Homo sapiens: one gene and its partners. The protein of the gene in region 2 purifies or fractionates together with the protein of the main gene of each other region. This does not show direct contact. Each region holds a gene or a part of one and is shown on either strand. Other genes may lie near its edges. The genes, in order: BPGM, SPANXN5, PRUNE1, EHD4, KLHL18 and C17orf75.

Region 1 (4,584 bases), on a different chromosome or scaffold from region 2:
GTGAAATTTGTCTTTCCATGCCTGACTTATTTCACCTAACCTTAGGCTCTCCAGTTCCATCCATGTTGTTGTGAATGACAGGGTTTCGTTCTTTTTATGGTTGAATGATATTCCATTGTATATATGTGCCAAATTTTCTTTATCTGTTCATCTGTTGATGGGCACTTAGATTGCTTCCATATCTTGGCTATTGTGAATAGTGCTGCAACAAACATGGAGTGCAGGTATCTCTTCAGTATACTTATTTGCTTTCTTTTGGATGTATACCCAGTGGCGGGCTTGCTGGATCATATGTCTACTACCTGTTTTTGAACAGCCCACAAACTATGCATGGGTTTTACATGTAAAACGGTTGAAATAAATTAATATTTCATGTGCATGAAAATTATATGAAATTCTAATTTCAGTGTCCATACCTGAAGTTTTATTGAAACAGATTTATTCACTTATATATTATGTATGGTGGCTTTCAGCTGCAATGGCAGAATTATACAATTGTACCTAATTATGGCAGAGACCAGTATAGCCTAGAAAGCCTAAAAAATTTGCTATTTGGTGGTTTACAGAAAAAGTTGCTAACATCTGAGCTAAGCTATAGTGTCTTTCACGTTTATCTCCTTCATCTCACTTAAACGGCCATTGTCCTGGTCCAAGTCTTTATTCTGTGTTACCAGAATTATTGCAAAAACCTCTCAGCTAGTGTTCATACTCCTGGGTTTTCCTGTCTATTTCTGTAAGTAAGTGCTGCCTGATCCTGCTAAAATGCATGCTACTAAACTTTTAATGATGTCCCAATATGTATAGAAAAACCTACATGCTTTGGCACAGGCTTTTTTTGTGTCACTATTTTTTCTTATCTTTCTAGGCTAGTCTTCTCCTGCTTCCTTATTATACCCTATACTTACAGTGGCCATATAATTTTCCAAATGGGACACTTAAGTGTGAAAGGGGCCCTAGTAGTAATTATGTTGGGGAAACAGGCCTAAGACAATACTGTTCTGTAATAATGATGCATGTGCCTCTTTCTCCTAACTACCCTCTCTGTCTTGACCTTGCCAAAAGAATGCTAATCTTGAACCATAACTTCAATTTTATGGTGGCATTTATGGAAAGAATATTTTTTGCCTATTAGGCAAATCAGGATGTATGGTTACTCTAGCTATACTCCAACCAGTTTGAATGGGCTCGCCATTTTCCATATGTACCTGTTCCTTTGCCTTCACTCACTGTTCCCCTAGATTGGAATTCCTTTACTTTTTTCTGTAAATCTAAACCTTGCCTTTCCAAATCCAGCTTAAAAAATACTGTGTCCACGAAGCCTTACTCAGAAATATTCTCTCCCATCCCACCTCTCTTTTACTAATGAAGTGCTTTCTCATGGTGTGAATTACTTTGAGTTTTAGGTACACACACACACACACACGTACTGAAGATGAAGACATAATTCTTGTTGGATTACATATTCCTCATAGGCCTAGCATTGGGCCATGCCTAAATGGGATCTGCAAAATGTTTGAAGAATGAATTAATTGGTCAGGCTAGGGCGACTGAGTATTTGGGGCTTTCAATTTATGAGTCATCCATTTTAATGTGATTAAAGCAGTGAGAAAAGGGTTTCCAAGAACTGAAGACTGAGCCTCAGGTTTCAATGTGACAGTGTAGCAAAATGGTTCAGGGCATAGATACAGACTTCTCGAGACTAAATTCCAGCTCTGCCATTTACAGCCTCTGTTACCTTAGGCAAGTTAACCTTTCCTCCTGTTTCTTCATCTGTGAAATGGGAGTAATCATAGTAGCCACTCCATGGAATGGTGGTTGAGGATTCAAACAGTGCCAAGTAACATTGAACTAACATTCACAGGTGAGCACTCTGTGAATGTTGGCTACTGTGACTAATATGATCATCTTCATAGTACTCTTACAGGTAGGTAAGAAAATGCAGACACCCAAGACCAAGATGTAACCGTGGAAGAGCTGGAGGAAATGCTACACCAAAATCTTAGTGGGTTTTTTTTCTTGATGGAAGTAGTCTGTTTTAGAGAAGTCATGAGAGAAGATGATCTCCACTTAGTAAGAAGTAACTAACCTGTAGTCTTTTGAGGCACCATTTCAGTAGAGTGGGTAAGGCACAAGTTTGGTGTCAGGAAACTAAAAAAGGAATGGCTAGAAGGGAAGGTAAATGGACAAGAGGAAGGGGAGGGAGGATAAGATACACAGCTGTGTAAAAGATGTTTCCTTAGTAAACTTTTTCTTCAAGCCAGATCACACTTTAAAAAGGAAGACACCCTGGGGGATAAATCAATAACCTATGTGTTCTTTTTTTGACATGATGTAAATTATTGATTAAAATCGGTACTTAAGTGCCAGTAACTTTTGCTATGGGATAAATGAGAAACCAGGTACAGGTTGGTGAGCTTTTATGAAAAACAAAACAAAACAAAAAAAATAAAGCTTGAGGTTGAAAAGGAATAGTTTTTAATTTGGGATGGGGAGTATTTATTCTTAGTAAGGTTCCTCTTTATAAGTTGGGGTGACTATTGCCTGGCTTACTTTGTGCCTTGAGGTTTTTCTCAAGAGTACTAATAAGGTGAGCCCTCCTTCATGTTCACCTTGTTCGTTTGCGTTTGATGAAATGGCTGCCTGGGTTTGGAAGGACAAGTTGGAACTGGAGATACCCCTGTGAAGTGAAGCCAAGTGAGCCAAGATCCTCAAACCATGACTCTAATATCTCCAGTGGGGGGTTGAAGGCAGAAGACCAGGGTTGCAGTTCCAGTTTGCCATTTACTGGCCATATGTTTTTGAACAAGTCAATCAGAATCTCCATTTTTTTCTGTGGAGATTATGGCCATCCATGAACATACTAAACTTATAGTACAAAAGTACAAAGTACAGAACTATAATGGATAATTATTCTTGGCTCCTGTTTTGACATAAATACCCTGAGATTCTTAAGTTAAAGTTTCCTAACATCTTAGCCCTGCCAACTGATTTTACTGTGGCAGTTACCACTAAAACTCTCAAGCCTTAGTCTCATGTGTACAATCCAGTCATTTCTGTCTGACTTTGGTTCAGTCAGTACACCTACTGAGTGCCTCATATGTGCCAAGCGATGTGCTAGGTTCTAGAGATACAGCAGTAAGACCTGCCTTGATGCAGCTTACAGTCTTACAGGGCACATAGCCATTGAACAGGTAATATATCTCAAGGGATCCATCGCAAGTGCACCAAATGTGGTTAAGCGGGATGCTACAGGAGTAGGTCAGCAGGCCTGACCTACTTCCCAATGGGTGAAGAGGAAGTCTAAAGCCAGGGGTTCTCAAAACATGGTCCTTGGACCAGCCATGTCACCATCACCTGAGGACTTGCTAGAAATGCATATTCACAGTCCCACCCCAGACCTACTAAATCAAGCTCTGGAAGTGGGCCCAAGCAATCTGTTTAATTTGATTTTGATATACATTAAAGTTTGAGAACCACTGGCCTACAGGAACTAACATTTAAGCTGAGCTCTAAAGCTGCATGATCTAGTGCGGTAGCCACTGGTCACATGTGGCTATGGAGCACTTGAAATGTGGCTGGTTCACATTGAGATATGCTTTCATTATAAAGTACACACCAGATTCCAAAGACATACTGTGAAAAAAAAGAATGTAAATTGCCTTATTAATAATTTTTGTATGGATCATGTGTTAGAATTGTATTAGTTCTCATGCTGCTAATAAAGACATATCAGAGACTGGGTAATTTTATAAAGGAAAGAGGTTTAAATGATTCACAGTTCAGCATGGCTGGAGAGGCCTCAGGAAACTTACAATCATGGTGGAAGGGAAGCAAACATGTCCTTCTTCACATGGTGGCAGCAAGGAGAAGTATAAGTGAAGTGGGGGCAAAGCTCCTTATAAAACCATCAGACCTCGTGAGAACTCACTTTCTATCATAAGAACAGCATGAGGGTAACTGTCCCCATGAATCAATTACCTCCCACTGGGTCCCTCCCATGACACATGGGGATTATGGGAACTACAATTCAAGATGAAATTTGGTCTTGGCCCCTCCCAAATCTCATGTCCTCTCATTTCAAAACATAATCATGCCCTTTCCAACAGTCGCCCAAAGTCTTAGCTCATTTCAGCATCAACCCAAAAGTCCAAATCCAAAGTCTCATCTGAGACGAGGCAAGCCCTCTCTGCCTATGAGCCTAGAAAATTGAAAGCAAGTTAGTTACTTCCTAGATACAGTGGGGCTACAGGCATTGGGTAAATATACCTGTTCCAAATGGGAGAAATTGGCCAAAACAAAGGGGCTACAGCAGGCCCCATGCAAGTCCAAAATCCAATAGAGCAGTTGTTACACCTTAAAGTTCCAAAATGATCTCCTTTGACTCCATGTCTGAATGATAGCTTTTGGACCTATAGGATTCATGTGGCTTGTAGAAAATTTAAAACTTCATTGTGCCTCGCATTATATCTTGATTGGACACAACTGATCTAAAGGATGACTAGAGCTTAACCTAAAGCAGGGTGAGACTGAAGTGGCAATGGAGAGAAGAGATGAAGGGTGAGTGTTCTGCATAGGGTACAGTGT
Region 2 (4,100 bases):
TGGGTTATAGGGTGGCCAGAGGCTTACATATCAAAGGAAGAATTTATAAATACAAATTTTCTCAAGGAAATGCTCTAAGGAAAGTGAAATGGGGAAGGTCTCTTCTTGCTCTTTTGGCAACAGGAAAATCTCAATTTTATGTTTAGTTACCCTTACAATTTCCCCCTTTTGTTATTCTTTTATAGTAACAGTACAATTTTCTAGTTATCTCCACTGCTTTGAAATGAGGCTCATTGGCACTGGAGAAGCTGGTTCATTCACACAGTCAGCTTCACATTCCCTCTTTTGATCAAGATCTTTCTTTGAAAACCTCACAAACCTGAGGTGATCCACCCACCTCAGCCTCCCAAACTGCTGGGATTACAGGCGCAAGCCACTGTGCCCGGCCCTATAACCAATGTTTTTAATTGTATCCCTCTAGAGAGAGTGAGCAGAGGTGTCTGTGTATGTCTGTATTGTGCTTTGTGTTTTACAGAACATTAACTCTTTATAAAGCATATATTTCTAACCTAGGAAAATATCAAATGGAAAAGGGATGGGAATACCTTTGATATGTACATTCAGCAGAACTATGTGCTGCCGGGTACAGTTGCATGAACATATACACATCTCCACTTCCTGTGGGAGGAAATTTTAAGAAGAAAATTTTCTTTAGGAATCAGTGCTCCCCCAGGCCTTATTTACAATGTCTGGCTTACTGTCAACCTGTGAGTCTGTCCACCAACCCTACAGGACCTCATATCCCTCCCTTCTCAAATGCCTACCTCTTCCCTTCCCTTCTCCCCCACCATCAGAAAACAGGCATAGATATATGCAGCCATCAGCTTCTCAAACTTGATTTTATTGTAATCATCACCGTTGGTGGTGAGGATTTGTCCAATTTGGTTTCTCCATGTTTAATTAGTCTTCCTCACCCTCCTCTGACGATCCTTCAGATGAGTCTGGGTCTTCTTCCTCCATCAAAGATCCTTCAGATGAGTCTAGGTCTTCATCCTCTTGTGAAGATCCTTCAGATAACCCTAGGTCTTCATCCTCCTGTGAAGATCCTTCAGGTAATTGTAGGTCTTCATCCTGCTTTGAAGATTCTGCAGATGAGTCTAGGTCTTCGTCCTCCTGTGAGGATCCTTCGTCCTCCTCCTCTTGGACTGGATTGATGGAGTTCTCTCAGGACTGGTCATTCTCGAGTTGATTTGAATGTATTTTCTTAGTCTTCCTGTAGCACAACACTAATACTGTTGAATATTCTGATGTTTTCATCTTTTTCAAACTCGGTTCGAGGACTAAGTCCCTGTTTGGTGTCTCCTGCATCTGTTAAGAAAACAGGGAGAGGCCAGAAAGACATTATTTTGGGTGAATAGGATAGAGACTGGATAGCAAGGGGGGCTTTATGAGAAGGAATGCAGGTTGAGGAAGGGGTTCGATCCAGAGAAGAACAAGGTTGACTCACAGGGTAGGGATCTATGGGGAAGAAGAGGAGCATGGGTAGGGTCATCTGTTAGTCCAAACTGCACCATTTTGTAAGTTCTTTGCTATTTTGCAGACCTTGGTCAAAGTGAAACATCCCATGGGGGTTCAGGCCGTGAGAAACATCCTGCCTAACCACCTGTCCACAAGGCAGACAAAGGCCCAACTAAAGAAACATCCCTATCATATCTTGCTTGGCAAAGTTCTAAGGAACACCACAACGATATTCCACCAGAAAAAGGGCCAAACCACCTGATCATAAGAACATCTTATCAATATCCTGCTGGGCAGCAAGCCATGCTGCCCAGATCCCTCCCACCCATACCTGTAAGTACCCCAGGCTGTAAGCGGTGGTGGGATCTGGCATTAAGCTGGTCCCCCACTTCCACAAGCGTCTGCAGTATTCCTGTGTTGCTGTTTGAGCTGCCCCCTCTCTGTGTGTCTTTCTTTCACCCTCGCCTTCACTTCAAAACCTAACAATCTTACCTCATCATTTTTGCTGTTGGAGTCACAGGGGCTCTTCCTCTTCTCCCCATTGGTGCTTGAAGTGGGCTTTTCCATGATTCTGGTTGGTTGTTGAATGTCTACAGCAGGATCTTGTAGAGTCCAGACTTCCACAGCTATATTGAAGCTTCCCAGTGGCCCAGAGCTCTTGCCCTCCCTATATATACCCTCCTGGTGACAAGGCAAAGCCACACCCTTGAGCTTTGTTTGATCATACAGGCAGTGTCCCAGCCAATGGCAGTCCAAGGGTGGCTTAGACATCACAAAGCACCACTGCTGACCACTCCCTGGGCTTGTGGGGGAGGGGTGACAGGGGTGTAGAGGAAACCAAATGCTGCTGTTGTTTCAGCATCCCCTGAAGACGCATCCCAAACTGATCTGCTGCCGCTCCTCATTTCTCCATGTTTAATGTTCATGGTTCACATGGAAGTGAGAGGTTGATTCTGTCAAGCCCTTCCCCACAGCCATTCCTATTAAGTGATTCATTCTTTTGTCTTCCAGCCCTCACCATGACTTAGTATTTTAGATGTCTCACCTCAAATCCCCCAAGCTAGTGTGGCTACATTTAATTATTGGTGGAGATGTGAATTATCCCATTTCCCTCTTACAGTTCCTTCATATGCACCTTGAAGACCATTTACTCTTGGGCTACTGCCAGGCAAATTTCAACCCATGTTCTTTTACCCAATGTCCATGTAGTTCTTTTAAGTTTCCTATTTCCAATCTGAAACAATGGCCTCAGTCTGTCAAAACTTTAGTGAATTAACATTCTTTACCTTGCATCCTAGTCTTGTTTCAAATCAGGGGTGTATGTTCATAGTAAATGTAGTATCCCAACATGAATTCTACCAGTATGTGGGGTGGGGGAAGGAGTAAATATTCAAGTGCTGGAAGTTGTCCTGAGTATTTACCTGCAGGATACTGCAATCTAAGACTAATATGTGCAAGAATGTGGGCATAGCTAAGCTTTGCACTGGAGATTGTGTCCAGTGACAAAAAAAAATGCATTCAGATTGGAAGGGAGAAGTAAAAGTATCTTTTGTCAAAGACTACATGAGAGTGTATGTAGAAAATCAATCTAAAAAAAATGCTTCTACAATAATTGAGGTTAGCAAGATTGCAGAGTAAGCGATCAACATATAAATCAATTGTATGTTTATCTAGTAGAAGTTATATATTAGAAATTTGCATCCAGTTTTCACCTATAGTCATCATGTCAATATGAATAATGACACATTTTTCACCGGAAAGTATTCCCATTTGTATAATTAATTAAATGGTAATATAAGTTTTAAGGTATCACTATCATTATTGGCATTAAGACGTGAAAGAGTTATACATCATAAGCAGTGAGGCAAAGAAAAAGACATGGAGAGGGAAACAAAATCGGAGAGTAACACATCTGGAAAGCTAAATATTTGCTTCTAAAAGTGACTGTTTTTGGCTGGGCGCAGTGGCTCACGCCTGTAATCCCAGCACTTTGGGAGGCCGAGGCAGGCAGATCACCAGGTCAAGAGATCAAGACCATCCTGGCTAACACGATGAAACCCCGTCTCTACTAAAAATACAAAAAATTAGCCAGGCGTGGTGGCTGGTGCCTATAGTCCCAGTTGCTCGGGAGGCTGAGGCAGGAGAATGGCATGAACCCGGGAGGCGGGGCTTGCAGTGAGCCAAGATTGTGCCACTGCACTGCAGCCTGGGCAACAGAGAGAGACTCCATCTCAAAAAAAAAAAAAAGGTGACTGTGTTTTGAGGTACAACTGGCAAATTTCACGTCCTTCCACAGTCTTTGTGATGTTCAGATATTCAGGTATTTCAGGGATATATTAAATAGTGTAGGCATTCTGAGCATATCAACCATATCATCCACACTCTGAAAACATTAGTGTTCAAGAATGTATTCCCTTTCAATTATGCCCTACATTCAATATCTGTGTCTTGTTCATATTCTGTGTTGTGCCTTTTCCATTTTCTTCAAGATTGTTTAATCTACTGGATGCTCTTCCTAGCTATTTCTCAAAAGAACATTCTATTAAATTTATTAATATCAAATTAGTTTTCCTTTTGTTAATGATGCATACCTTTCATTTACTGCCTTTTTCCCTTAAGTTTATTCTGTGACTCTTATTATT
Region 3 (4,584 bases), on a different chromosome or scaffold from region 2:
GAACAAGGCTTGCCTTTCTGTTTTCTTATCTGGGAGGCAGAAAAGTCAGCTAACATTTCATACCTGATACATCAAACTTTGCCTTTTGTAGGGAATCAAATATATCATTTCTCTTGGGTAGGTCTGGGAAAAGGGCCTCTAGTTTCTCCACATATTTGCTGTCCTTTGGGGTTGCCTTTCCAATTTTAAGGTCCATGTTGACACAGTCCAGGATGATGGTTCCTGTGGAGAAGGGAGATGGTGGAACTTGAATCCTGTGACCCTTCACACACAACCACCAGAACATATATAACCTTCACACCAAATGGACACACACAAGGAGATTTGTATAGCAAAATCTCTGAAAGCAAAATGAGAAACTGGGATGGACAGTGTCCTCAGACCTCCCAAATCCAAACTAAAATGTAGGAAGGGAAATGGGGAAAAGGTAGAAAGAAAGCCTGAGCATCTCAAACCTTGGAGATTTTACAGCCTAGTCAGACAGAGATACACCTCTTCAGTAGGCCAAATCCCATCAAAGAATCTTCTAAGTTGGAAAAGACAGTCTAGTCCAACTCACTCTCTCTCTCTTTTTTTTTACAAGTGGAAAAATGAGAACAAGAAAGGTTAAGAGATTTGCTCAAGGTCACCTATTTCCTGGAGGAATTGGTATTGGAATCTGTTTCCTGCTTCTTTAGCTAATCCTCCTTCCATCATAAAATGATGCCAATAGGAAGCTTCTTGGTCTGTTGCCCTGCACTTCCTTTCTACTTTCTCCAACAAGTATCCCACAGGCCTTTAAACACATGCTCAATTGTCCCCTGAAAGAATCCTATCTTTTGGTATGAGCTGAATGGCTCTGAGAGCATATGGTTAGGCTGGAAGCGTCTAGACTTTTCCACCCTCCCTTCTCAGGGACAGGAATAGAACTACTGAGGTCCCAATCCAAAAGCCACCCTTACCATGCAGAAGGGCTGCAGTTTGCCTGTCCAAGATCTCTGGTGCCCCCTGCAGGATTCTCTCGGTCACCAGGGTAGCACAGGACCCCACCAGCTCAACTGAAACATGGCAGGGAGGGCAGTGTTTCGGCTCGATGGGTCGATGGTCTAGCACCTCTGCTACTGCCTCCTCTAGGGCTGTGTCACTTCTGTGGAGGGGAGGGTATGGGAAAAGAGGAAGAAAGATAGGTACGGACACTCCAGCTGCTTCTAGCCAACCTCTACCCCACACATCAAGGAAAATGCAGATGTCTTTTTTTTTTTGAGACGGAGTTTCACTCTTGTCGCCCAGGCTAGAGTGCAATGGTGCGTTCTTGGCTCACTGCAACCTTTGCATCTCGGGTTCAAGCGATTCTCCTGCCTCAGCCTCCTGAGTAGCTGGGATTAAAGGCGCCTGCCAACATGCCCAGCTAATTTTTTTGTATTTTTAGTAGAGATGGGGTTTCGCCATGTTGGCCAGTCTGGTCTCAAACTCCTGACCTCAGGTGATCTGCCAGGCAAGCATTTAAAACTGACCTTTGGTTACTTTTACCTCTGCCTAACTCCTCTCAATTCTTTTTTTTTTTTTTTTTTGAGACGGAGTCTCACTCTGTTGCCCAGGTTGGAGTGCAATGGCACGATCTCGGCTCCTGCAACCTCCACCTCCCGGGTTCAAGTGATTCTCCTGCCTCAGCCTCCTGGGTAACCAGGATTACAAGGCACGTGCCACCAAACCCGGCTAATTTTTTTTTTTGTATTTTTAGTAAAGATGGGGTTTCACCATGTTGGTCAGGCTGGTCTCGAACTCCTGACCTCGTGATCTGCCCGCCTTGGCCTCCCAAAGAGCTGGGATTACAGGCGTGAGCCACCGCGCCCAGCAATTCTTTTCTTTAATGTTATAATTGGAGTCATCTTTAAATAGTGTATAAGCAAATTCTGTGAAGCATCTGCTGCAAATATCTTACCCCCACATTTGCTGTCCTTTAGCGTTGCCTTTCCAACCCTATACCCTTGACACCCTTGATACCCAACATCTAAATTTCTCCTTTTTTTTTTTTTTTCTAAGACGGAATCTCGCTGTGTCGCCCAGGCTGGAGTGCAGTGGTGCAATCTTGGCTCACTGCAACCTCCGCCTCCCAGGTTCAAGCAATTCTCCTGCCTCAGCCTCCTAAGTAGCTGGGAGTACAGGCGCCCACCACCAGGCCCAGCTAATTTTTGTATTTTTAGTAGAGACGGGGTTTCACCATATTGGCCAGGCTGGTCTCGAACTCCTGACCTCGTGATCCGCCCGCCTCGGCCTCCCAAAGTGCTGGGATTACAGGCATGAGCCACCGCGCCCAGCAAATCTCTCCTATTTTTATAACCCACTCAATACTTAGATTCCATGTGGGTCACCAGGTCCTGTGAATTCTATCTTAATTCCTATCCATGCCCTAGTTTCTAACTCTCTGTTACTGCCCCACTCTAGGCCCTCAATATCTCTCGTCTGGACTATTCCAGTAGTCTCTTAACCAATCACCTGCTTCCAACCAAGAGCCCTCCTGGGCTGTCCTTCACAAAGTGGCCTGAATGATCATTTGAAAAAAGAAAATCTGATTCTTTTAGGACCCAGAATATAATTTAAAATAGTTCCCCACGGCCTAAAATAAAATCCAATCACCTTAGAAGGGCCTATGAGGCCTCCATAATCTGCCTCCTGCCTGCCCCCTCTGTCTCATCTTTTTCCATGTCCTACTTCTCCCTCAAATTTTATGCTCCAGCTGTGCAAAACAAATTCCATTTCCCCTAGCTCACCATGCTATTTCACGCCTGCCTGCATTTGATTCTATTAATTACTCCCTCTGCCTGGAATGCCTTTCCTAACCACCTTCCCTCCTCCCTCCCAATTCACCAAGCAAACACCTAGTCCTCTTTCAAGACTGAGATCAGTGCTCACTTCAGCAGCACATGCGCTAAAATTGGAATGACACAGAGAAGATTAGCATGGCCGCTGAGCAAGGATGACATGCACATTTGTGAACTGTTCCATAAAAAAAAAATATATATATTTAAAATAAAAAATAAAGGCTGGGCATGGTGGCTCACATCTGTAATCGCAGCACTTTGGGAGGCCAAGGCGGGCGGATCACGAGGTCAGATCGAGACCATCCTGGCTAACACGGTGAAACCCTGTCTCTACTAAAAATACAAAAATTAGCCAGGTGTGGTGGCGGGCACACCTGTAGTCCCAGCTACTCGGGAGGCTGAGGCAGGAGAATGGCGTGAACCCGGGAGGCGGAGCTTGCAGTGAGCCGAGATCGCGCCAGTGCACTCCAGCCTGGGCGACAGAGCGAGACTACGTCTCTTAAAAAAAAAAAAAAAAAATTAGCCAGGCCGGGCGTGGTGGCTCACGCCTGTAATCCCAGCACTTTGGGAGGCTGAGGCGGGCGGATCACTTGAGGCCAGGAGTTTGAGACCAGCCTTGCCAACATGGTGAAACCCCGTCTCTACTAAAAATACAAAAAATTAGCTGGGTGTGGTGGCGCATGCTTGTAATCCCAGCTACTTGGGAGGTTGAGGCAGGAGAATCACTTGAATCTGGGAGGCTCACTGCAGTGAGCCGAGATGGTGCCATTGCACTCCAGCCTGGGCAACAAGAACAAAACTCAGTTTCAAAAAAAAAAAAAAAAAAATTAGCCAGGAATGATGCTTTTACACAGGAGGCTGAGGCGGGAGGATTCCTTGAACCCAGGAGCTCAAGGTTATGATGATGCCGCTGTACTCTAGCCTAGGAGACAGAGCGAGAGAGACACCATCTCTTAAAAAAAAAAAAGGTGGTGGCACGGTGGCTCATACCTGTAATCCCAGCACTTTGGGAGTCCGAGGTGGGCGGATCACCTGAGGTCAGGAGTTGAAGACCAGCCTGACCAACATGGTGAAGCCCCATCTCTACTAAAAACACACACACACACACACACACAAAATTATCCCGGGAGGCGGAGGTTGCAGTGAGCCTAGATTGCACTATTGCACTCCAACCTAGGCAACAAGAGAAAACTCTGTCTCAAAAAAAAAAAAGAAAAAAAAAGGAAAGTTTATTACTGAATGAATCCATAGATGGATAATGCTCTCTCAGGCTGCCTTCTGTCAGTATCCTGCTATAACCACAATGTGCTCAAGAAAAAAATATTAGCAGGAGCCAAACAGACTTAGGAAAGTCACATAATCGTGTTGCTTTTTTGGTAGTTTTTTCCAGTAGTAAATTAGGGATGGAATTATTATAAATGTGTACATTTGTTAAACAGACATTATTGAGATATTTATAGATTAAAAAAAATTTTTTTTTGAGACGGAGTTTCGCTCTTGTTGCACAGGCTGGAGTGCGATGGCATGATCTCGGCTCACCGCAACCTCTGGCTCCCATGTTCAAGCAATTCTCCTGCCTCAGCCTCCTGAGTAGCTGGGATTACAGGCATGTGCCACCACGCCTGGCTAATTTTGTATTTTTAGTAGAGATGGGGTTTCTCCATGTTGGTCAGGCTGGTCTCAAACTCCTGACCTCAGGTGATTCTGCCCGCCTCAGCCTCCCAAAGTGCTGGGATTACAGGCGTGAGCCACCACGCCCGGCCTGGCTAATTTTTTTTTTTTT
Region 4 (5,286 bases), on a different chromosome or scaffold from region 2:
CCTGACCAACATGGAAAAACCCCATCTCTACTAAAAATACAAAATTAGCCAGGCGTGGTGGCACATGCCTGTAATCCCAGCTACTCGGGAGGCTGAGACAGAAGAATTGCTTGAACCCGGGAGGGGGAGGTTGCGGTGAGCCGAGATCATGCCATGGCACTCCAGCCTGGGCAACAACAGCGAAACTGTCTCAAAAAAAAAAAATTGTGTAGTTTGCATTCATTTCAAATGGACTTCATACTTTTTCAGTGGAAATGTCTTCCTTCACAGCACCTGGGGCCAGGGATTTTCTGGAGGAATCTTTGAAATCTGTTTTCCTCAAGTTTTGGACACAAGCCTGGGTGAGCTCCATATCCATCCTTCCTCGGCTAGTACAGAGTCTAAGATGACATGGTCACTTTCCCCCATGCCCATCTCCCCTCCTTCTCTGGCCAATTCTTTATTGCCAGTCAAAGGCAGAAGAGCCAACAGCAATAAGAGAAGATTCCCACCATGTCAGCACAGGTTCTGTGTCATCAGTGACCTCTTGGAATGTGCAGGAAGCCAGGGAGATAAGAATCTATGGCTATGTAGATTAGGTACACCCCACAGCCAAGTATGAGCTTCTAGGGCCCAATCGCTAGAAGCAAACAACCCAGACCACTAACCAGGCTCTAACTAAGGCAGGATCCAGGATGCTCAGCACCCTGGGCCAACCCTTCCGCTCAAGATGAATCCATGGTTCATTTACAGTGTCTGGGGTGATATTTAATTCCAAGTTCACAAGTCTCCAGGGTAGCTGCCCTTTTGTTTGGGGATTTCCTCCCGGGTGCTAAATCACTTCCTCCTAGCTCCAATCTGAAAAGCAATTCAGGTCTCCTGTGGCCTCACCAAGCTTCCTGCCCACACTGATTTTCTTCTAACCTCACTGGTCTACCTTGTGTACATCACCTAACAACAAAGCCACTTAGCTCAAGGAAAGCCTCAAGAACAAATGGCTTCCTAATAAGGTGATTCCTCCCTCACCCTAGGGTGGCCCACAGCTCCAGCACCTGCTGAGAGGTGGCCAATTTGGATGAGGTAGCTGCCAGGAATCAAATCTCAGAACCCTTCATAAAACTGCGCTTAGCTATTCCACAAATTTCTCCAAATAATGAAACAGAGAGAAGAGTGAGAATATAATGAGAGAGAAATCTGGAAAAATACAAAAGATAAATTCATGTTCCTGTGAGTTGTATTCATCTTCCTGGGAGTTGATAATCAGGCTGGCTAGCTATCCAGTCTATGGGAGCAGAGAGAGGGCTGCATTATCTCCAGGTTGGCACAGCATCTAGCAGGGGCTCCCTGATGACACCTGGGCACAACAAGGACCTCACAGCAAAGACAAACAGGAGGAAATGCCTAGGGTGTGGGGACATGCCACCACTAAATTACAAAAATATATGCCTTTCTTCTTTGTATGTTTCAACAGTACCGCTTCCCACTCTTGTACCACTTGGCCATAACACTTTATTATCCCTAGTACCTAAAAACTAGACAGTATTACTGAGACCTTAAATGTGACATTTGTCATCTTTCAAGGTGCCAGTTACTGTAATACAGCTATGGTTCATTTTGAGTGTCTGGGTGACGGTGACATATTTAATTCTATTTTTGTCTTGTCCATAAGCACCAAATAAAGCAATTTTGAAATTACTTTCTTCACACTCAATTTATTATCTAGAACGACATTTCAATACACAGTATATTTGTTTTGTGGAATTCATTCGCAGTGTATCTGGAGGCCTGGATTTAACATATTTCCTGTAGTGATAGCTACTCTATTTGTAGGAACTATTTAGGTCACTGGAGTGGAGAAAAAGAGGTCGCTACTTAACAGAAATGGCATGTATCCAAATATAGATGCAGTTTTCTCAACACCTGTTGCACATCAAATGATGAAGAGATTGTTACAATTTCCAAAACCCTGGACCAAAACCTTAAATGATCAGCACTTTGTTTCAACTGATACACGGCTTAAGTCAGAAAAATAAGTTCTTCTTACCAAAAACAGTGAGCCTAAATATGCTGGCTGCTTTAGAAATAAAACAGGTGATCAACAAAGCAATCTGTTTCTGTCTAAATAATTTCCCAGCAAAAGTCACTTCTTTTGAAACTATATGATTTGAACCACAGGGTATGCACAGTGATTGTGTGCTTTCAGAAACACGGTAAGCATGACAAATATTTTCAGTTGTCAAGGGTAAGCGAGGAGGGAATGACCCACCTAAGAAATGGAAACTAACAAATAGTAATATGACACTCCCCCTTAGTTCCACAGGCTGGTGCGGCTGCTACACGCAGCTCACTTCCTACGGGCGGCTAAAGGCGGTGCATGAACTGAACGTAGGCGGCCTCTTTATCCCCTCCCCACAACACTGTGGGGTGGCACGTAAAGACCTCAAGGGAAGGGGGCCTGGGCGATACGCTCTCCTGCTGCCATTCATTTGTTCAAGAAATAGTTGAACAAATGAATAGTTAAACAAACTCTCCAACTAGGACTCTGTCCCATTCGGATACCCTACGCCTCTCCCCCCATTTCCATCCCTAGGCATCACTCCCTCGTCAAGAATATGCTGATTATGGCTCGCGCCCCCTCTCTCCCTTGGACCCTCCCGCCAGGGCGACCGGACGAGGCCAGCGGGAGCAACGCCTTCCGAACCGCAAGGAAGGAGGGCTCGGAGTGCGCAGGGCGCGGGTTCGCGGGACCCTCCAGCGCGCGGGGCTGGCCAGCCGGGGCGGGGCCGAGGGCACCGGGCGCCGAGCTCCGGGAGGGGTCCCCGAGGTCGCGCCGGCCGGGAGGGGCAGCGGCGGGAGGCGGCCGACTGCGGCGCACACGTGGGGAGGGCGGAGCGGGGCGGGAGCCGGGCGAGGGGCGGTGACGGTACCTGATGAAGGTGGTCTTGCCGGTGCTGTACTGGCCCACCAGCAGGATCATGGGCTTGTTCTCGAAGTCGGCGTCCTCCAGCGCAGGCGAGTGGAACTCGTGGAAGCGGTACGCCTCCTCCAGCGGCAGCACCTTGCGCAGGTAGAGCGAGCGCAGCCCGCCCGTCACCGTCTGCACCGCGTCCGCGCCGCCAGCGCGTTCGCGCCCGCCCGCCTGCCGCCCCATCCAGCTGAACATCCTGCCGCCAGTCCACGCTCGGATGGGACCCTGCTCCGGGTTCGACTCTCCCCGGCTCGCACTGAGCCGCCCCGGCCGCGCTGGCCGCCGCCCGAGGAGGGCCCCGCCTTGTGCTGCCACAGCCAGTCTTCGGCCGCTACGTCACGCGCGCTCGCCCACTATTCAGACGAGCTCTCTCAGGTCCTTCCTGATTGGATCTCTGCCAGAGAGGGCTGAAGGCGTCAGCCAATTGAGAGGAGGTTCTTAATGAATTATTGATGACGGAGTCATTCTAGAGGACTGGGCGGGGAGATGGTGTCTTCCCGGCCGGGTGGCACTGACCGGTCATGCTCAGGGCCCCCTTCTGGTTGCCGGTGCCTCACCTCTGGCCAGGTGGCATCGGCTTCCGGGTAAATCTGAGCTGCCCAAAGCGAGCCTCCGGAGGCTGCTCCATCTCCTGGAACGTTTACTCATTCAGGCCTCTGGACGTCGATACTGGGGATGAAAAGTTCAGAAAGTGGACAGGCAGGTTCTGTCTTCCCGGGGGCGGGTGGTTATGACTCCGTTTTACAGGCCAAGAGACCCAGGCTCACGGGCATAATTGACACAATCTTGAGGGGAAGTGGACTGGAATCTATTTGAGTAGCCGTTTCTCCTACTTCTCCACATTGCCCTCACTAAATTCTGGATCAGCTAAAGGCTTTTTCCCCTTAGTTTTCTTTATGTGTTTTTCTGTAAAGCCGAAAATTTAGTCATTACTCTCATTATTACATTATCCTCATTATTACAACTTTATTTCCACATATTGACATGTGAGTCATTGTCACCTCCTAGCTGTTTTTTGTTGTTGTTGTTGTTTTCTGAGACGGAGTCTCGCTCTGTCGCCCAGGCTGGAGTGCAGTGGCACGATCTCGGCTCACTGCAACCTCCGCTTCCCGGGTTCAAGCAATTTTCCTGTCTCAGCCTCCTGAGTAGCTGGGACTACAGGCGCTCACCACCATGCCCAGCTAATTTTTGTATTTTTAGTAGAGATGGGGTTTCACCATATTGGTAAGGCTGGTCTTGAACTCCTGACCTCAGATGATCCGCCTGCCTTGGCCTCCCAAAGTATTGGGATTATAGGCGTGAGCCACCGCCCCTGGCCTGTTTCTTTTCTAGGTTAAAAGGATACTCACTTATCTAAGTTGAGATTGGGGGAAATAATCACCTTTTGTGTCCTTGATTGTAGCTTAGGAATATTTCTTAGTTGTTTTAGAGCATTTCTCAAGTGTGATCCATGGGGCCACCTGCATATATGCATTTATGAGCTGGGATGCTTGTTAAAATGCAGATTCCTGGTCTTCAGTCCAGACCTACTGAGTTAAAATATTGAGGAGAGATGGAGCTCAACAGATGCCCTAGGTGACTCTGATGTGGCCTAAGTCTGGGGAAACAGTACACCCTGCAGTACTTCTCCAACCTAACAGAAATGCGGATTCTGATTCGGTAGGTATGGGATGGGGCCCATGACTCTACATTTCTAACAGGCTCTCGGGTATTGCCAATGCTACCCATCCCTGGACCATACTTGGAGTATGAGAGAACAGGACTTTGCATCAAAAGATCTGGGTTTGAACCTTGACTATGTAAATTAATGGCTGTGTGATTTTAAATGTGATGAGTTACCTCTCTGCCCTAGTTTCCTTAAGAGCAAAATGGAAACTCCTTTGGAGTTGTTGTGTGGGTCACATAGTTGGAGGGAATTGTATGTAACTAGGGAAGTGAAAAGAAAGCCAAGGGAAAATAAAGTTAGACATCTGCCTTGTGTCAAAATAAAACAAAGATTGAAATGTAAAAAGAAAATGAAACCACTGCACTACTAGAAGAAGGTACAAGAGATTTATACAATTTGGCGGTGGAAAAGCCTTTCTAACCAACATTAAGGACAGAAATTATGAAAGCAAAGGCTGACATATTTGACAACAAAAGTAAAAGCTTCGATGTATTTTTTTAGAATACATAAAAACAAACGGATATAAATACAATCTTACCATATGATGCAGAAATCAGCTCCTTAGTATTTACCCAAATGAATTGAAAACTTATATCCACAGAAAAGCCTGTACATGGATGTTCATAGTGGCTTTATTCATAAGTGCCAAAAATTGGAAGCAACTAACATGTCC
Region 5 (4,584 bases), on a different chromosome or scaffold from region 2:
CTGACCTCTCATCTGGACCACTGCAACAGCCTCTTTACAGGCAGCCTGGCTTTCCTACCAGTCCCATCCGACCCCACCCAGCCAGAGGGATTGCTCCTCCTGTACCTGCACCATGTCCGTCCAGTGGCTCCTCACTGTCTCCTCTAAGAGAATCCAGGTTCCTTCATGTGGTTTTTAATTTTTTTTTATTTTTGAGACAGGGTCTCACTCTGTCACCCAGGCTGGAATGCAGTGGTGCTATCATAGCTCAATGCAGTTCTGACCTCCCAGAATCAAGCAATCTTCCTGCCTCAGCCTTCTCAGTAGCTGGGACTAGAGGCTTATGCCACCATGCCTGGCTAATGTTTTTTTCTCTCTCTCCTTTTTTTTTTTTTTTTTTTTTAAAAGAGACAGGGTCTCTCTTATGTTGCCTAGGCTGGTCTCAAACTCCTAGGCTCAAGTTACCTTCCTGCCTTGGCCTCCCAAAGTGTTAGGATTACAGGCGTGAGCCACTGTGCCCAGCCCTTCATGTGGTTCTTCACCTCTTGGTCCTCAACCACCCTTCAGCTTCACCCCACACCACATGCCACCCACCCTGCTCCGTCTCCCATCCACACGCTGTGCTCTAGCCCATGAGAGGATCATTGCTGTTCTCGATTACAGTGAACACTTTCTTATTGCAGCCTCACTCCTTGTTGTCTCCCTATGATGAGCAAACACCTCCCATTGGCTATCCATGACAGGTCTCACCTTGGAAGACATCCCTGCTACCCTGTCCCTTCCTGCAACCCTGGGGAAGATGAAGGTTCTCTCTGCTCTGTGCCCAAGAGCTTCTGACACAGGCCTCCAGGGTAGGATGATCATGATGCAACCCATGGCCCAACCACATTGGATGCTTTAAAGGATCTCAGACACCCAGCTTGCTGTCTGATCCACAGTAGATTGGTCAAGTGAACAGAATACTGGCTTAAAGGCATCCTAATAAGTCCATTCAACTAATTTGTTTATATTTTATTATATAAGATGAGAGGATTCAAATACTGAAATGAAAAACTCGGGCTAACCTTGTCAATGTTTTTCAAAGAGTGTTCCACAAATGAGTCCCACAAGATGGTGACTGTTGTGTATATAAAACCCGAGGTTAAACAGAGTTATTTACTGCAGGGTTTCTTAGAGTCTTTAAAATGTTAATATATCTTATGGAAAGACAAGGACTCTGGCAGTTCAGACATCAACATTTCCCAAGCCTATCTGACCACAGAACTTAAAAACATTTTTTTTTTTCCAAATCATATCCTACCCACTTTGGAACATGCTGTTCATCTACTTCTTATTCCCTCTTGCCTGTATTTCCATTAAAATGGGCTGATTTAGCTAAGAGGTACAGACCATTAAATAAGTATTTCCAAGCAACTATGTAGACTATTTGTTTTAAAATTTTATTTACTCATTCTTTCACTTAACCAAGGGTTATTAAATATCTAGTATATACAAAGTACTATACGGGCAAAAAGGTAAGACATTCTCTACCCTTGAGAAGCTTAAATTAAAAAAACTACAGTTCTGATTTTTATACTCTCTGTTTATAAGCTCCAGTTGCCCCAAGGGAGCTGGAGTCCTTACTTGTCCGTCTCAGGTGAGTAGGTCTCCACGGAGCTGAGGGAAGAGTTGCCATCGTAGCCCCCACAGACGTAGATCTGCCCATCCAGCACGACTGTCCCCATGGCACTGAAACAGACAGAGCTGTCATCCCAGATGAGCCGCAGCCTTCCTGGAGCAGCCTCTCTTGCCCACTGAGAAACAAACCTATCAATTGCCTCTTTCTGCAACGTAAATCTAAGGTATGTGACTAAGTAAAGGCATAAAACTGAGGTGACAGAAGCTGCCCCATCATTCCTCTTGTGCCCCACCCTTCTACCGCAGGCTGCCTCCCCTCCCTGCTCTTCTCTGTCCTTAATCTTTCTAAAATGCTTACCTTCCACCTCACCATGTGAAGGTCGAATTTACCTTGAAGGCCCAACTCAACTTCCACTCTCCTCTTCCTCCCCTTTGTAAGAATTACTCTTTCCCACCCCCACGCTCCCTGAGTGGCTTATTAATCAGCAGTTGTTACAATCATTCATTCATCCATCAGATCTGTAACAGCTGGGGTTTAGAGTGGTAAGCAAGCCAAAGTTCCAGCCCACAAAGCACTTATGTTCTGACATTATAGGCTACCAGGAATCTATCTGCCACTTCTGTGTGTAATTTTTAATCAGAGCCTTGCTCTGTCACTCAGGCTAGAGTGCAGTGGTACCATCATAGCTCACTGTGCCTTGAACTCCTGTGCTCAATTGATCTTCCTGCACTTCAGCCTCCCAAGTAGCTGGGATTACAGGTGTGCACCACCACACCCAGCTAATTTTTTTTTTTTTGAGACAGGGTCTTGCTATGTTGCCCAGGCTGGTCTCAAACTTCTGTCCTCTTGTCTCAGCCTCCCAAAGTGCTGGGATTGTTAAGAGTGAGCCACCACACCCAGCCAATCTATCTGCCACCTCTTAATAAGTGAGGAGCTCCTGGAAGACAGGAAAGGGCCTTCACCTGTGTGACCCTCACAGTGATAAGTATGATGTCCTGTATGTAACAGGCACTGAATGTATGTTTGTTGTGTTACCTCTGCTTTTTCCCACTCAATTCACAGATGTTGTTTTCATCATGTGCATGGCCTCTAATTTATCATAGTGGCTGATGCCACAGCTCCTGTTTGCTGTGCATTTACTACATGTGTTAGGTACTCTACATTTGTTATTTTCTTTTTTTTTTTTTTTTTGAGATGAGGTCTTGCTCTATCATCAGGCTGGAGTGCAGTAGCACAATGATGGTTCACAGCAGTCTTGACCTCCTGGGTTCAAGGGATTCTCCCACCTCAGACTCCCCAGTAGCTGGGACTACAGGCACATGGCACTATGCCTGGCTAATTTTTTTTTTGTATAGACGGGGGTCTCACTATGTTGCCCAGGCTGGTCTTAAACTCCTGGGCTCCAGCAATCCTCCCGCCTTAGCCTCCCAAAGTGCTGGCATTACAGGTGTGAGCCACTGTGCATGGCCCACTTGCTATTTTCAGCCCTTAGCACACCCTGCAAGGAAGGAAAGAGCACCATAATCACTGTACAGACAGGCAGCCATAGCTTGGGGAGGCTGAGGTCTCTCCTCAAGACTGCCCAGAGAGAGGCCTGCCTCAGATTTAAATGAGACAAGCCCAACTCCCCAACTCCTTACATGCCAAGCTCTCCTAATATCAAAGACCCAGGGGTCTGGTGGTGTAATCATGTAATCTTCCCTCCTACACAACGCCTTATAAGGAATTCAGCACAAATGCCAAGCTGCCCAATTCACTATTTTCAAATGTGATGCTGGTGAAGATTAAAAATGAATCTAGGTTTCTAACAAACAGGAAAATAAAACATACCAGGCTTAATGCTACCTTTTCTTTTTTTTGAGACGGAGTCTCACTCTGTCAACCAGGCTGGAATGCAGTGGCACGATCTTAGCTCATTGCAACCCCCGCCTCCCCGGTTTAAGCAATTCTCCCTGCCTTAGCCTCCCAAGTAGCTGGGATAACAGGCGCCCGCCACCATGCCTGGCTAATTTTTGTATTTTTAGTAAAGACAGGGTTTCACCATGTTGGCCAGGCTGGTCTCAAACTCGTGACCTTAGGTGATCCGCCCTCCTTGGCCTCGCAAAGTGCTGGGATTATAGGCGTGAGCCACCATACCTGGCTTGCTGCTACCTTTTAAATGTACATAGTAATCAAACTGATCCACAGAATGTCCCTTTCAGGGACATGATAACTGACCCCCTGAACCAGCCAGAAAGAGGAGAGGGACTTGCCTTAGGCAAGTATTGTGGGAAGATCACAAATTTACTAGACATGATCACTATCCTTCTGGATACGGACACAAAACAAACATAAAAATTACATAACAAAACAGGTGTTGAACAATATGAAAATGAATTAAGAGGTGCCCCAAAACTGCATGAGATTAACTATCAACTAGGTGGTAAAGGCGAGTGTGAAGAGAAGGAGAAAATGCTGATCAGCATGGACTGGAATAGTCCAGTGTAAGAAAGGTCTATGGGATGGCGTAGAACACTGGGGGAGATAGGAAGGAAAGATGGCAGGATGTCACTAACTGGCAGAACAGACAGCTGTGTGGGATGTCAGAAGAGAAGTGACTAGGAACGTTTTAAGGTAGCCTGTAATTTAAAAGGGATGTAATGGAACCGGGCCCACACTAATAACAGGATATTAACCACAGTGAAGGAAAGGAATACCCAGAGAACTTTCCTCCAAGACAGCCCTCTAAACCCAGTAACATCAAAGCAAGGAAGTGGTCCAGAGCAGACACACAAGGAAGGACAGCTGACTGCAGTCAAAGCAAAAAAGCTACTCATGGTTGGGGACACGGAGCAATGAGTCACTCAAACATAGGAAGCTGCAAAGTATCCAAGGAGCAAAAGTGGGGATGGTGGGAGGAAAGGACTCTCAATGCGTTCTTGGGAGGGGCAGATCTTACGTATTTTTTTCTTCCCAAAGGAACCTACTCCGATGCTTTGTGAACTGGT
Region 6 (5,317 bases), on a different chromosome or scaffold from region 2:
AGCTGGAACTACAGGTGTGCACCACCACACTCAGCTAATTATTTTTATTTTTTGTAGAGACGGGGTCTTGCTGTGTTGCCCAGGCTAGTCTCAAACTACCGGCCCTTAGGCAATCCTTTTGCCTGGGGCTCCCAAAGTGTTGGGATTACAGACATGAGCCACCATGCTAGGTAGATTATTTTAAAGTATTTTTATTTTGTATAAGAGATTTTTGGCTGCGCGTGGTGGCTCACGCCTGTAATTCCAACACTTTGGGAGGCTGAGGCGGGTGGATCACTTGAGGTCAGAAGTTCGAGACCAGCCTGACCAACATGGTGAAACCCCGTCTCTACTGAAAATACAAAATTAGCCTGGTGTGGTGGCACACACCTGTAGTCCCAGGTACTTGGGAGGCTGAGGCAGGAGAATCACTTGAACCCAGGAGGCAGAGTTTGTGGTGAACCGAGATCAAGCCATTGCGCTTCAGCCTGGGCAACAAGAGCGAAACAAGAAAAAAAAGGAGATTTTCTTCTTCTACCAAGGGCAAAGCATACTGCAATTTAAATTTTGGAAATATTTAATATGAAAAGCAAACAATTCAGGAAGATATGTTGAGTTCTCAGCTGGATAGGAGTTATTTTTTGAGCTTCATTATTATTTCACTTAACACATTTTTAACTGGGTAATCATTTTCTAGGCCATACAAGACACAAACAATTTGAAGAGATTTATCCGACAGGCAGAAATGAATCATTATGCTTTGTTTAAATGTTACATGTTCCTAAAGAACTGTGGTAGTGGAGATATACTTTTGAAGATTGTTAAAGTGGAACATGAAGAAATGCCTGAAGCCAAAAATGTGATAGCTGTCCTTGAAGAATTCATGAAAGAAGCTCTTGACCAAAGTTTTTGATCATATGTTTTGAGATAATTGTATGATCAAGTTGTATATTTAAGTCTTAGTGTTTGAAATTGCAGTTATAATTGTTCATAGGATTGCTATTTAAGATGATTTGAAACTCAATCCAGATTTTCTTTTTGTATTTTACCAATTTAACTTAAATAAAAATCTGAAGAACATCTTCACTGAGTCCTAGATAGATAATGTATGTGAGAGTTGTGAAATTTTAGTGTCTCACTGGCCCCATAAATTCCACGCTTCAGGAAGTTGTTGCTTAAAAAATTTCAGAGATGATTTTGTTTGTGGCTTTTCTCAGGAAAAGCCTGAGTTTGCTGCAGTATTTAGCAACTTTTCTTCTCAGAAAAACCATAATACTTCCTTTTCAGTGGACTGTAGCTTCTTAAAAAAAAAAATGTAATTCTAGTCTTAGAACAGATTAATACCACTACACCAGTTCAGAGATAGATCTGTGCATCCTGTGGGTGCTTGATACATTTTTTTGTCTAGTTGATAACGGCATGGATGATAAAGTCAGATTTTAAGTCAATATGCAAATCCTGAGTATGTAGAAAATTAAATGAGCTTTACAAATCGATGCACTAGCTTCAAGATAAAATATTATCTTTGAGCTGGGCGCAGTGGCTCAAGCCTGTAATCCCAGCACTTTGGGAGGCTGAGGCGGGCAGATCATGAGGTCAGGAGATCGAGACCATCCTGGCTAACACAGTGAAAGCCCGTCTCTACTAAAATACAAAAAATTAGCCGGGCATGGTGGCGGGCGCCTGTAGTCCCAGCTACTCTGGAGGCTGAGGCAGGAGAGTGGCGTGAACCCAGGAGGTGGAGCTTGCAGTGAGCCGAGATCGCGCCACTGCACTCCAGCCTGGGCGACAGAGCGAGACTCTGTCTCAAAAAAAAAAATAATTATCTCTGAGAGAAAGCTACTGCAGAAATCGCCTTCAGTCACCATTTCATTTATTTGTTCACAGGTATTTATGAAGAGCCTGTGTTTTCTTTTAGGTGAAAATGCTGGAGTTTTAAAACAGTGTTGAGAAAAGAAACAAAGTACATACAGTTTACAAGCAAACTGTAACATAAGGAATGCAAACAGTTTCTTCCTATTAGAGTTACTCATTGATTTTAGTTTTTTGTACATTTGTTACAAGCCTCAGATTGTTTTACTCTGAATCAATTGAAAGTGCCCTCAGCTAGCCATTTACAATTCCCATGGAAGCCTATGTAGCTACATACATACAATTGCAATTTGCTCGGGATAGCTCTTTAATAAATTCATTTGATAATGATTTTTGCTTAGAAGAACAGAAGTCTTGTGTTCTCACTTCCCTGAGGATGCTCAGAGGAGCACAAACCCATAAAACTGAGGAATCCTCTCTTAAATGGATCTAAATTCACATTAAGTGCTGAGTTTTAACTTTCAAAATGACTGACAATGGCCTTCTGCTTTCTCCTCTACATAAGCCTCGGGACATGACTCACATTTCTTTTCTTTTAATGAGAAATACAATTCAGAATCTTCATAAATGCTTTCATACGGTTTTAAACTTTAATAACTTGGAATGTAGGCAGTATAGAAAAAAATCTAAGTAGCATTTTTCATAGTATTAAAGTGAGAGTGGCTGGGCACGATGGCTCATGCCTGTAATCCCAGCACTTTGAGAGGCCGAGGCAGGTGGATCACCTGAGGTCAGGAGTTCCAGACCAGCCTGACCAATATGGTGAAACCCTGTCTCTACTAAAATTACAAAAATTAGCTGGGAACTGTGGCATGTGCCTGTAGTCCCAGCTACTTGGGAGGCTGAGGCAGGAGAATCGCTTGAACCCGGGAGGCAGAGATTGCGGTGAGCCGAGATCGCGCCACTGCATTCCAACCTGAGTGACAGAGCGAGACTCTGTCTCAAAAAAATAAAGTCAGGGTGACTAAGGAAAACCAGCAATTTTATGACACTGTCCTTGAATCTGACTGTCTTTTCCCAATGTAGTTGGTTCCCCACTTGGAAATCATTTTTTAAAGTAAGCTACATTAGCACATCAACGTTTTAAGTCTGAAAAAATACTTCATTTTCAAATTCATGTCATTCAAGAGTCTATGTTGTAAATGGCATTTAAAAGCAAATGTGTTACCTGCTTCAAATCATTTATGGATATAGGCAAGGTGTAATTACATATTCTCTGTGTGGTTGTATATATTTTTGTAATGTAGGCTCACTACATTACACAGCTCTATATGATAGTCTTATTTTATCTTTTTTTTTTTTTAATGAAATGGGGTCTCACTATGTTGCTCAGACTGGTCTTAAACTCTTGGACTCAAGCAATCCTCCCACCTTGGCCTCCCAAACTGAGCCACTGCACCCGGCCTCTGGTAGTCTTATTTTAAAAAAAGTAAGTCTGGGCTGGGTGTGGTGGCTCATGCCTGTAATCCCAGCACTTTGGGAGGCCTAGGCGGGCAGATCATGAGGTCAGGAGATCGAGACCATCCTGGCTAACACGGTGAAACCCCGTCTCTACTAAAAGTACAAAAAATTAGCCGGGCGTGGTGGCAGGCGTCTGTAGTTCCAGCTACTCGGGAGGCTGAGGCAGGAGAATGGCGTGAACCCGGGAGGCGGAGCTTGCAGTGAGTCGAGATCACACCACTGCACTCAAGCCTGGGCGACAGAGCGAGACTCCGTCTCAAAAAAAAAAAAAAAGTCTGACAAACTCTGTATCACTACTGTAGACAAGGAAAATGGTGTCATGGAACTGAATATCTTGGTCATGAGAAGAAACCACAGAGTTCATGACTAGAAACATGTACTGTATTCAAATTTTAATAAGCTACTATCTTGGCTTTTAAAGTTGTTTTTTTTTTTGTTTTTGTTTTATTTTTTAAGACAGAATCTCGCTCTGTCACCCAGGCTGGAGTGTGGTGGTGCAATCTTGGCTCACTGCAACCTCTGCCTCCCAGGTTCAAGTGATTCTCCTTCCTCAGCCTCCCCAGTAGCTGGGACTACAGGCATGTGCCACCATGCATGGCTAATTTTTTGTATTTTTAGTAGAGACGGGGTTTCACCGTGTTAGCCAGGATGGTCTCGATCTTCTCACCTTGTGATCCACCCGCCTTGGCCTCCCAAAGTGCCGGGATTACAGGCGTGAGCCACTGTGCCCAGCCAGCTTTTAAAGTTTTAAAAAGGATTTGTTCAGACATGGAATATATTTGTGTATATTACTTGTGTGCTGTACACACAGAGGAAATGTATGTTTGTCATGTATGAAGAATGGCTTCAGTTTCTCTGTAATTAATTTGTAATTATAATAATAAAACTTAGCTTCTCATCAAGACAGTTGTTTTTGTTTAATGAGCTCAGTCCTCAAGCCTAACATTTGTATTCCCAACAAGGTTGTGAGGAAATTATACTTGCTATACTAAGGAATTTGTTGAAGAAGATCAAATCACTTGCTGGGATACACACCTTTCTGCTTCTTGCAGGAGGCATCAAGCAGAATCTAAGAGCAATTTCCCTCACAATGTTTTATTCATTGTCCAGTAGAGTTATACTCATAGAACTCAATAACCCAAGTTACTTCCTTTCACTCTCATTCATTATTCACCATGACAGAATGCCTGTCCTCTACCAGAGGATCCCTTAGACCAGGTGCCAGGAAAGCCTGCGGGCTTCTTGGAAATAAGATGCAGTTACTAGGACCACACTTTCCTAACAGTGTGTCTTCTCACTTAATGGAAACCCTGCTGACTTCAATGAAGTCTTTCCACTTGGAGGTCTGAGAGGGCAGTCCAGTTCTCTTAATTGCTAAAGTTCCTAAATGTGGCTGGATGTGGTGGCTCAGGCCTGTAATCCCAGCACTTTGAGAGGCCAAGGCAGGAGGACTGCATGAGCCTAAGAGTTCAAGACCAGCCTGGCAACACAGTGAAATGCCATCTCTACAAAAAATAAAATTAGCAGGACCTGGTGGTATGTGCCTATAGTCCCAGCTACTCAGGAGGCTGAGGCTGGAAGATCGCTTGAGCCCAGGAGCTCAAAGTAACTGAGCTATGACTACCACTACACTCCAACCTGGGCAACAGAGCAAGACCCTCTCTCAAATATAAAGAAATAGGCCAGGCACGGTGGCTCATGCCTGTAATCCCAGCACTTTGGGAGGCTGAGGCGAGCAGATCACCTGAGGTCGGGAGTTCGAGACCAGCCTGGCCAACATGGAGAAACCCCATCTCTACTAAAAATACAAAATTAGCCAGGCATGGTGGCACGTGCCTGTAATCCCAGCTACTCGGGAGGCTGAGGCAGGATAATTGCTCGAACCTGGGAGGTGGAGGTTGCGGTGAGCCGAGATCACATCATTGCACTCCAGCCTGGGCAACAAGAGAAAAAATACATATATATGGAAGCAGTAATGAATCGACAGCTGTGGTTTTTCTTGTAA

What was found.
Region 1: the proteins of SPANXN5 (region 2) and BPGM purify together in Homo sapiens (affinity purification with mass spectrometry; one large-scale study listed by BioGRID and IntAct). This does not show direct contact.
Region 3: the proteins of SPANXN5 (region 2) and PRUNE1 purify together in Homo sapiens (affinity purification with mass spectrometry; one large-scale study listed by BioGRID and IntAct). This does not show direct contact.
Region 4: the proteins of SPANXN5 (region 2) and EHD4 purify together in Homo sapiens (affinity purification with mass spectrometry; one large-scale study listed by BioGRID and IntAct). This does not show direct contact.
Region 5: the proteins of SPANXN5 (region 2) and KLHL18 purify together in Homo sapiens (affinity purification with mass spectrometry; one large-scale study listed by BioGRID and IntAct). This does not show direct contact.
Region 6: the proteins of SPANXN5 (region 2) and C17orf75 purify together in Homo sapiens (affinity purification with mass spectrometry; one large-scale study listed by BioGRID and IntAct). This does not show direct contact.

Annotation. Positions count from the first base shown.
Region 1 is NC_000007.14:134,652,723-134,657,306, forward strand, and holds part of BPGM (bisphosphoglycerate mutase), read left to right. Parts: intron 1-4,584. UniProt on the Homo sapiens protein: Plays a major role in regulating hemoglobin oxygen affinity by controlling the levels of its allosteric effector 2,3-bisphosphoglycerate (2,3-BPG). Also exhibits mutase (EC 5.4.2.11) activity.
Region 2 is NC_000023.11:52,795,324-52,799,423, forward strand, and holds SPANXN5 (sperm protein associated with the nucleus on the X chromosome N5), read right to left. Parts: upstream 2,105-4,100; 5' UTR 2,026-2,104; coding exon 1,951-2,025; intron 1,309-1,950; coding exon 1,165-1,308; 3' UTR 821-1,164; downstream 1-820.
Region 3 is NC_000001.11:151,021,153-151,025,736, reverse strand, and holds part of PRUNE1 (exopolyphosphatase PRUNE1), read right to left. Parts: intron 1,127-4,584; coding exon 942-1,126; intron 223-941; coding exon 64-222; intron 1-63. UniProt on the Homo sapiens protein: Phosphodiesterase (PDE) that has higher activity toward cAMP than cGMP, as substrate. Plays a role in cell proliferation, migration and differentiation, and acts as a negative regulator of NME1. Plays a role in the regulation of neurogenesis.
Region 4 is NC_000015.10:41,969,353-41,974,638, forward strand, and holds the start of EHD4 (EH domain-containing protein 4), read right to left. Parts: upstream 3,206-5,286; 5' UTR 3,143-3,205; coding exon 2,907-3,142; intron 1-2,906. UniProt on the Homo sapiens protein: ATP- and membrane-binding protein that probably controls membrane reorganization/tubulation upon ATP hydrolysis. Plays a role in early endosomal transport.
Region 5 is NC_000003.12:47,337,695-47,342,278, reverse strand, and holds part of KLHL18 (kelch-like protein 18), read right to left. Parts: intron 1,723-4,584; coding exon of another isoform or gene 1,708-1,722; coding exon 1,603-1,707; intron 1-1,602. UniProt on the Homo sapiens protein: Substrate-specific adapter of a BCR (BTB-CUL3-RBX1) E3 ubiquitin-protein ligase complex required for mitotic progression and cytokinesis.
Region 6 is NC_000017.11:32,327,338-32,332,654, reverse strand, and holds the end of C17orf75 (protein Njmu-R1), read left to right. Parts: intron 1-676; coding exon 677-892; 3' UTR 893-4,214; downstream 4,215-5,317. UniProt on the Homo sapiens protein: As component of the WDR11 complex acts together with TBC1D23 to facilitate the golgin-mediated capture of vesicles generated using AP-1. May have a role in spermatogenesis.